2 linked regions of the Homo sapiens genome follow. The protein of the gene in region 1 interacts with the protein of each later gene in a pairwise test. Each region holds a gene or a part of one and is shown on either strand. Other genes may lie near its edges.

Region 1 (3,816 bases):
AAATTCCTGGTAACCAGACCTAGATAGATATGCAGTAATGGCATTCTCATACTTATTGTTGGCAATTCTTTGACTTTAAAAAAACATAGTGAAATGCAAAGTTACCACTGCTTATCTTAAGAGACCTTGATAAAAAAATTCCTAAAGTCAAACATTAGCTGTTGTGTGCTTATTCATTTTTATGAGTACTCTTTTTAAAAAATATTTTATTTCCATAGGATTTTGGGGAACAGGTGGTATTTGGTTATATGAGTAAGTTCTTTAGTGGTGATATTTTGTGAGATTCTAGTGCACCCACCACCCAAGCAGTATACACTGAACCCAATTTGTAGCCTTTTATCCCTCACCCCCTTCCCATCATTACCCCTGAGCCCCCAAAGTCCATTCCATTGTATCATTTCTATGCCTTTGCATCCTCATAGCTTAGCTCCCACTTACGTGTGAGAACATACAATATTTGGTTTTCCATTCCTGAATTACTTTCCTTAGAATAATAGTCTCCAATCGCATCCAGGTTGCTGTGAATGCCATTAATTCATTCCTTTTTATGGCTGAGTAGTATTCCATCATATATATATGTAATCCCACATTTTTCTTTATCCACTCGTAGATTGATGGGCATTTGGGCTAGTTCCGTATTATAGCAGTGAATTGCGCTGCTATAAACATGCATATGCAAGTATCTTTTTTTGACTTCTTTTCCCCTGGATAAATACCCCAGTAGTGGGATTGCTGGATCAAATGGTAGTTCTACTTTTAGTTCTTTAAGGAATCTCCACACTGTTTTCCATAGTGGCTATACTAGTTTACATTCCCACCAGCAGTGTAGAAGTGTTCCCTGTTCTCCGTACATGTCAACATCTGTTATTTTTTGAGTTTTTGATTATGGCCATTCTTGCAGGAATAAGGGGTTATTACATTGTGGTTTTGATTTACATTTCCCTGATCATTAGTGATGCTGAGTATTTTTTCATACAATTGTTGGCCATTTGTGTATCTTCTTTTGAGAATTGTCTATTCATGTCCTTATCCCACTTTTTGATGGGATTGTTTGTATTTTCTTGCTAATTTGTTTGAGTTCGTTACAGATTCTGGATATTAGTCCTTTGTCAGATGTATAGATTGTGTTTGGGTTGTCTGTTTACTCTGCTGACTGTTGTTTTTGCTGTGCAAAAGCTCTTTAGTTTAATTAAGTCCCACCTACTTATCATTGCTTTTGTTGCATTTGCTTTTGGGTTTTTGGTCATGAAGTCTTTGCCTAAGCCAATATCTAGAAGGGTTTTTCTGATATTATCTTCTAGAATTTTTATAGTTTCAGGTCTTAGATTTAAGTGCTTGATCCATCTTGCGTTGATTTTTATATAAGGTGAGAGATGAGCATCCAGTTTCATTCTCATACATGTGGCTAGCCAATTATCCCAGTACCATTTGTTGAATAGGGTGTCCTTTCCCCACTTTGTGTTTTGTTTGCTTTGTCAAAGATCAGTTGGCTGTATTTGGGTTTATTTTTGGGTTCCCTATTCTGTTCCATTGGTCTATGTGCCTATTTTTATACCAGTACCATCTTGTTTTGGTGACTATGTCCTTATAGTATCATTTGAAATCAAGTAATGTGATGCCTCCAGATTTGTTCTTTTCACTTACTTAGTTTTGCTTTGGCTATGCAGGCTCTTTTTTGGTTGCATATGAATTTTAGGATTGTTTTTTCTAGTTCTGTGAAGAACGGTGATAGTATTTTGATGGGAATTGCATTGAATATGTAGACTGTGCTCTTAAAGCATGATAAAATCTTGTATCCATTTAAGGAAATCTAGGTTCCTTGATGGACTTATAATGACAAAGATAATTCATCAGATCTCTGATTGAAGGTGGAATGGGGAGAAATGATAGAGGGATAAGTGCTGTGGGCTGAATGTTTATATCCCTCCCAAATTCACATATTGAAGTCCCATTTCCCAATGTGATGTTACTTGGAAGTGGGGCCTTTCAGAGAAAATTAAATCAAAAGAGTGGAGCCCTCATGATGGCACTCATACCCTATAAGAGGAGACATGAGAGGGATTCTGTCTTTCTGTCTCTCTCTCTCCCCCTTCACTCTGTGAGCATATAGCAAGAAGGTGAACATCTGCAAACCAGGAAAGGCTCTCACCAGGTTTGACCATGCTAACATTTATCTTTGAACTTCCCAGCCTCCAGAACTATAAGAAAGAAATGCTTGTTGTTTAAGCCACTCAGTTTGTGCTTATTTTGTTATAGCAGCATAACTACTAAGAAAATAACTTTAAGAAATTGAATCTAAAAGAGGTCAGGATTGGGGACCAGTCTGAGAACTCGATGATGAAGATATGTACAAGCGATTGGGTCAAGGCAACCTAAAATATTCATTAAAAGCACTCCTTTGAAATGAAGTAGACATTATTTATGTAACCACAAACAATAACAATAGACATAATAACAAAAATTTGCAGGAGTAATTATATGTTAGTAATTATACGTTAGTAATTAATACGTTAGTAATTAATCCCACTACAACCTCATTAGGTAAGTTTATTATCTCCAAGGAGGAACCTAATTTATTAAGAAGCTAACATGTTTCTTCTAATGTTTCAAAACTTATTTTTGTACCATTGAAATGGGAATAATTATCTTATAAGCTTTAAGAGGATTAAATGAATTAATATGTAAATAAGTCTCCCTAATACATCGTTGGGTCATATGCAACCATGATCTGCATAAAGTGTGAATCAAAAATGGAACAAGTTGTTATATTTAAGTGGATGTCGTGTGATCTATTTCATCGCATGTAAAAAGTTATGCTAACTTTAGTGTTAATAATATATAACACTTTGATTTCTTTTGAACACAGGACCCCCTGGAACAGCTGTCCCTCCACCTACTGGCTACCCAGGAGGCTTGCCTATGGGATACTACAGTCCACAGCAACCCAGTACCTTCCCTTTGTACCAGCCAGTTGGTGGTATCCATCCTGTCCGGTATCAGCCTGGCAAATATCCTATGCCAAATCAGTCTGTTCCAATAACATGGATGCCAGGGCCAACTCCTATGGCAAACTGCCCTCCTGGTCTGGAATACTTAGTTCAGGTACTCCATGAAAATACAAATTATTTTCTTATGAAATGTGACCATAGGGATCCAACAAAGAGAGAAAAAAAGCAGACCAGAGTGAATAAAGGAGATGGGTCAGTGATGACAGATGCCATTTGTGAAACTATAAGAACAGTGATACCAGTTTCAGAAATATGAAGGGGAAACAGCAAGTACAAGGATGTTTATAGTGGGATGAGTATGTTTTTCATAAGGATTTATGTTGAACTTCAAGGCATTCAAGATGTTTTCTTGAAAGAATTGTACAAATGGAAATAGAAAAACTATCATAGAGGATAGTTGTGTTATTTGCTTAGAAGTAAACAGTTAACATCAAAAAAAGCACAAAAGAGAACAAAACACAATACAGTGGGTAAATTACTGAGTGCCTTAGCCCATTGCTTTTTACCACCACCCATCATTTTCATTAGCTACTCTTGTCACCCCCAAAAACAAACAATATAAATAAAAATAATGGACCCTACAAAGAATATTGCTTCAGGCCAAGTTCCAGAGACCCCCTTCATACAACACAATAACTCCCTAATTAACATCTATGTAGATATTCTGCTGCCACCAGGACATGCAGATCAAAAACTGGGGTAATATGGGAAGTTTGTGCACAAATAGTTTTGTTTAAAAACCCATGTCTGAAACTAAAAAACCTGCTTAATGAAAATAAGATAAAGCTGGCAGAGTAGACGCCTTTTA
Region 2 (3,409 bases), on another chromosome or scaffold:
TCTGCACTTATAGATGAGAATGCTGAGGCCTCAGGAGGGCAAGGGACTCGCCCACGGTCACGGAACCCTAAGTCAGGGGTGGAGAAGGACCCCCTGACGCCAGCCCACCTCCCCTGCCCCTCAGCAGGCCTGGCTCCAGCACAGAGAAGAGCCATTGTTGCTGCTCTGGGGGCCCTAGGAGCCTGGGATGTATCCTGCCTTTGTTTCTAGAGCCTTTGTTTGTTGTATTTCCTCTGTCTCCAGACATCGCAGGCCGGTGGGACCCGGCGCCTGTGCACGCTCACGTAGCGGGGCCTGTTCGGGTCCCTCGTGGGTCCCTTCAGTTCGAGCTCTGTCCTTGCCTCAGCGGCCCGTCACCCATAGGGTGGCAGAGATGGGCCGGGGGAGGGAGTGGGCAGCAGTGCGGACCGAGTCCTGGCGCATGGGGTTTCCCTGGTGCTGGAGCCGGGCGTTTCGGGGGTGTGGGCGGGGCTGGGGTCATATCCCCTGCATGCCCCGCATGCCATGGCTGTACTCACATGGCAAGAGGTGGTGATCGCCAGCTCAGGGAAGGTGGGGGTTCCTTCATCCTGTGGAGAGGGGGCTGAATTGGGGTCCCCTGAGCTGTAGGGTGCAGTGCCTGACAGGCCGTGGGGAGGGCCGAGGGGATGGGGACTGACAGGCCCCGGGCCCATGCCGCCCCCTGGCACGGGTGGATGCCCCGCCTCCCGGGGGTGCCCAGCTGGACTGTGGCACCCCCAAAGGACCCCACATGTCACTGTTCCCCCGCAGGGCTTCCCACGGCACGACATGGAGACCTGTGGTTGCGAGGCTCCCTGGGGCTCGGCTTGGACCGCGATGGGGCTGGGCCCTGGCCTCCTAACGGGGCTGCTGTCTGGGGCGGTAGCTGGGGGGGCGCTCTCCCCCCTGCCCGCGACTCGGAGCACCCCCACCCCTCCCCTGCCGGGCCAGGCCGGGCGGCGTTGTTGGCGGGGGCCCCGGTGGAGGCCCGGCCTGGGCGGCGCCCGCCATGAATGGGCTGTCGCTGAGTGAGCTCTGCTGCCTCTTCTGCTGCCCGCCCTGCCCCGGCCGCATCGCTGCCAAGCTCGCCTTCCTGCCGCCGGAGGCCACCTACTCCCTGGTGCCTGAGCCCGAGCCGGGGCCTGGTGGGGCCGGGGCCGCCCCCTTGGGGACCCTGAGAGCCTCCTCGGGCGCACCCGGGCGCTGGAAGCTGCACCTGACGGAGCGTGCCGACTTCCAGTACAGCCAGCGCGAGCTGGACACCATCGAGGTCTTCCCCACCAAGAGCGCCCGCGGCAACCGCGTCTCCTGCATGTATGTTCGCTGCGTGCCTGGTGCCAGGTGAGCAGCTGTGGCCGCGCCTGGGCTGGGTCACCCTGTTCTTGGGGCTCCCGTTTCTGCCTGCGGTGCTTGGTGTGGTTGGTGGTGCCCCCGAGGGCCCGAGCCTGCCGTGAAGGGCCATCCAGCCAGCAAGGGTGGTATCCCCCGTCAGGCCGGCCTCGTCCCTCTGGCAATTTTCTCTCGCAGACAAGGACACCAGGCTCAGGGAGGCCATCCCCAGCTGGCATGGGTGGGCAGGCTGGGCGACTCCAACAACCCAGCGCCTGGTGGTTGCCTGCTGGGCAAGAGCTGGGGCACAGGGGCTGCCCTGGCCTGCGGGTACATCCACCTTCTCGCCAGGTGGGGTTCTGACCAGATCTGAGTCCAGAGGGCGAGCCTTTACCTTCTGGCTGGGCTAGGTGGGGGCCTGGGGGAACTGGAGGAAGCAGTCCATGGCAGGGCCAGCCTGGCCACCTGCTCCTGGCACCACCTGGGGCAGCTCCCGTGCTGGGAAGCAGACAGGCCTTGCAGCACAGCCTTGGGGCTTGGGCAGGGTGGTGGGCCAGGAGGGGCTGCATGAGTGTGAGCAGAGATTGGCCGCATTTGCTTGTTGGGGGCAGGGGTGGGGTCCAGTTGTGCCCCAACAGTGAGGGCACCATTCTGTGAGGTGAGGGGAGATAGCCCTGCCAGCAGCAGCATGGGCTCCCCTGGGAAGGTCCTGAAAGGTGGGCCTGTGCGCTCCATCCCCGGGGGTCCAGGTTCTTCCAGGAGGAAGGGCAGTGAAGCCTGCAGTATCTGAGCACACACTGCGAGTCTGCCCTGAGAGAGGATGCGACCGATGGTCCCAGTGTCCCGCTTCACAGATGGGAATCCTGAGGCTCCCTGGCTGGCCTCTGCAGCCCAGGCTGCCTGTCCCCCTGCCAGCTGTCCTGTCCTCTCCCCATGGGGAACCCTCGGAGATGGAGCTGTGCTGTCGTAGCCTCCCCTCTCCATTCACTGGCTTCTGGCCCCCTTGGGAGGGGAGTAAATGAGGCACTGGGCATGGCTGGCCACCGGGGTGGGCTGTCACTACGCATCCTCCTGCCCTGCAGCTGGGCGCTGGGAGCGAGGATGTGAACGGCCCTTCTCGGCCTGTCCCAGGTACACGGTCCTCTTCTCGCACGGCAATGCCGTGGACCTGGGCCAGATGAGCAGCTTCTACATTGGCCTGGGCTCCCGCCTCCACTGCAACATCTTCTCCTACGACTACTCCGGCTACGGTGCCAGCTCGGGCAGGCCTTCCGAGAGGAACCTCTATGCCGACATCGACGCCGCCTGGCAGGCCCTGCGCACCAGGTGAGGGCGACCCTGGGGGCAGCTCAGCCTGGGCACACCCAAGAGGGGACCAGGCGGGGGGCCGGGGGGCGGGCTTCCCTGGGAGGAAGGTGGGCGGCCCTGCAGGAGGGGAGCCACAGTGGATGCACAGGGCCAGAGAGCCGGACAGGCGAGCTTGGGTGTGCAGGTGCCGCCTCCACATGGCTGAGGTGTGGCCAGGCGGTCCTCCCACACCCTGGCCTGTGGAGCCAGGTTCCCTGGGAACCCCTGGCCTGAGGATGGGAAGGGGCTGAGCTTGTCACAGGGGTGTGGATGCCACCCGGCGGGAGGGAGTGGGTGGTGGTCTGGGGGTCTGTGCACGTGTGGCTGGGAGCCCATCGGCCGAGGCAGCACTTGGGGCCAAGTGAGGCGAGGCTGCTGCATCCAGGTCCGGAGGACTGGCCCATGAGGCCCTGTGGCTGCGGAGCTTGGCCATCCTGGGGCAGGGCCTACAGGGTAAGGTGCAGACCCGCAGCACACATCCGAGGTCTGGGCCAGCCTCGATTCCAGATCCAGCCCTCCTAGTCATCCACGTCCCCAGCCCTGCGCTTGCCTGGGCCCTTCACCGGTGTTTGAGCACCGCCCGGGCCAGTGCTGCTTTGGACGAGGAGACCCGGGTGGGCCTCTGGTGGCTTTTCCTGCTCACCATCCACTGGGCCTGTCTCGTCCTGGCCCTGCCCAGCCCACTGGTCTGACCTGCTCCCACAGGGACCAGGCACAGCTCTGAGAAGTCAGA

Evidence for each region.
Region 2: the proteins of PLSCR4 (region 1) and ABHD17A interact in a two-hybrid assay, tested with the Homo sapiens proteins (one large-scale study listed by BioGRID).

The regions. Positions count from the first base shown.
Region 1 is NC_000003.12:146,205,812-146,209,627, reverse strand, and holds part of PLSCR4 (phospholipid scramblase 4), read left to right. Parts: intron 1-2,866; coding exon 2,867-3,102; intron 3,103-3,816. UniProt on the Homo sapiens protein: Catalyzes metal ion-induced ATP-independent rapid bidirectional and non-specific movement of phospholipids (lipid scrambling or lipid flip-flop) between the inner and outer leaflet of the plasma membrane and participates in the redistribution of phospholipids between membrane leaflets.
Region 2 is NC_000019.10:1,879,167-1,882,575, reverse strand, and holds part of ABHD17A (alpha/beta hydrolase domain-containing protein 17A), read left to right. Parts: intron 1-9; exon of another isoform or gene 10-771; 5' UTR 772-1,009; coding exon 1,010-1,341; intron 1,342-1,527; coding exon of another isoform or gene 1,528-1,680; intron 1,681-2,460; coding exon 2,461-2,655; intron 2,656-2,717; exon of another isoform or gene 2,718-3,409. UniProt on the Homo sapiens protein: Hydrolyzes fatty acids from S-acylated cysteine residues in proteins. Has depalmitoylating activity towards NRAS. Has depalmitoylating activity towards DLG4/PSD95. May have depalmitoylating activity towards MAP6.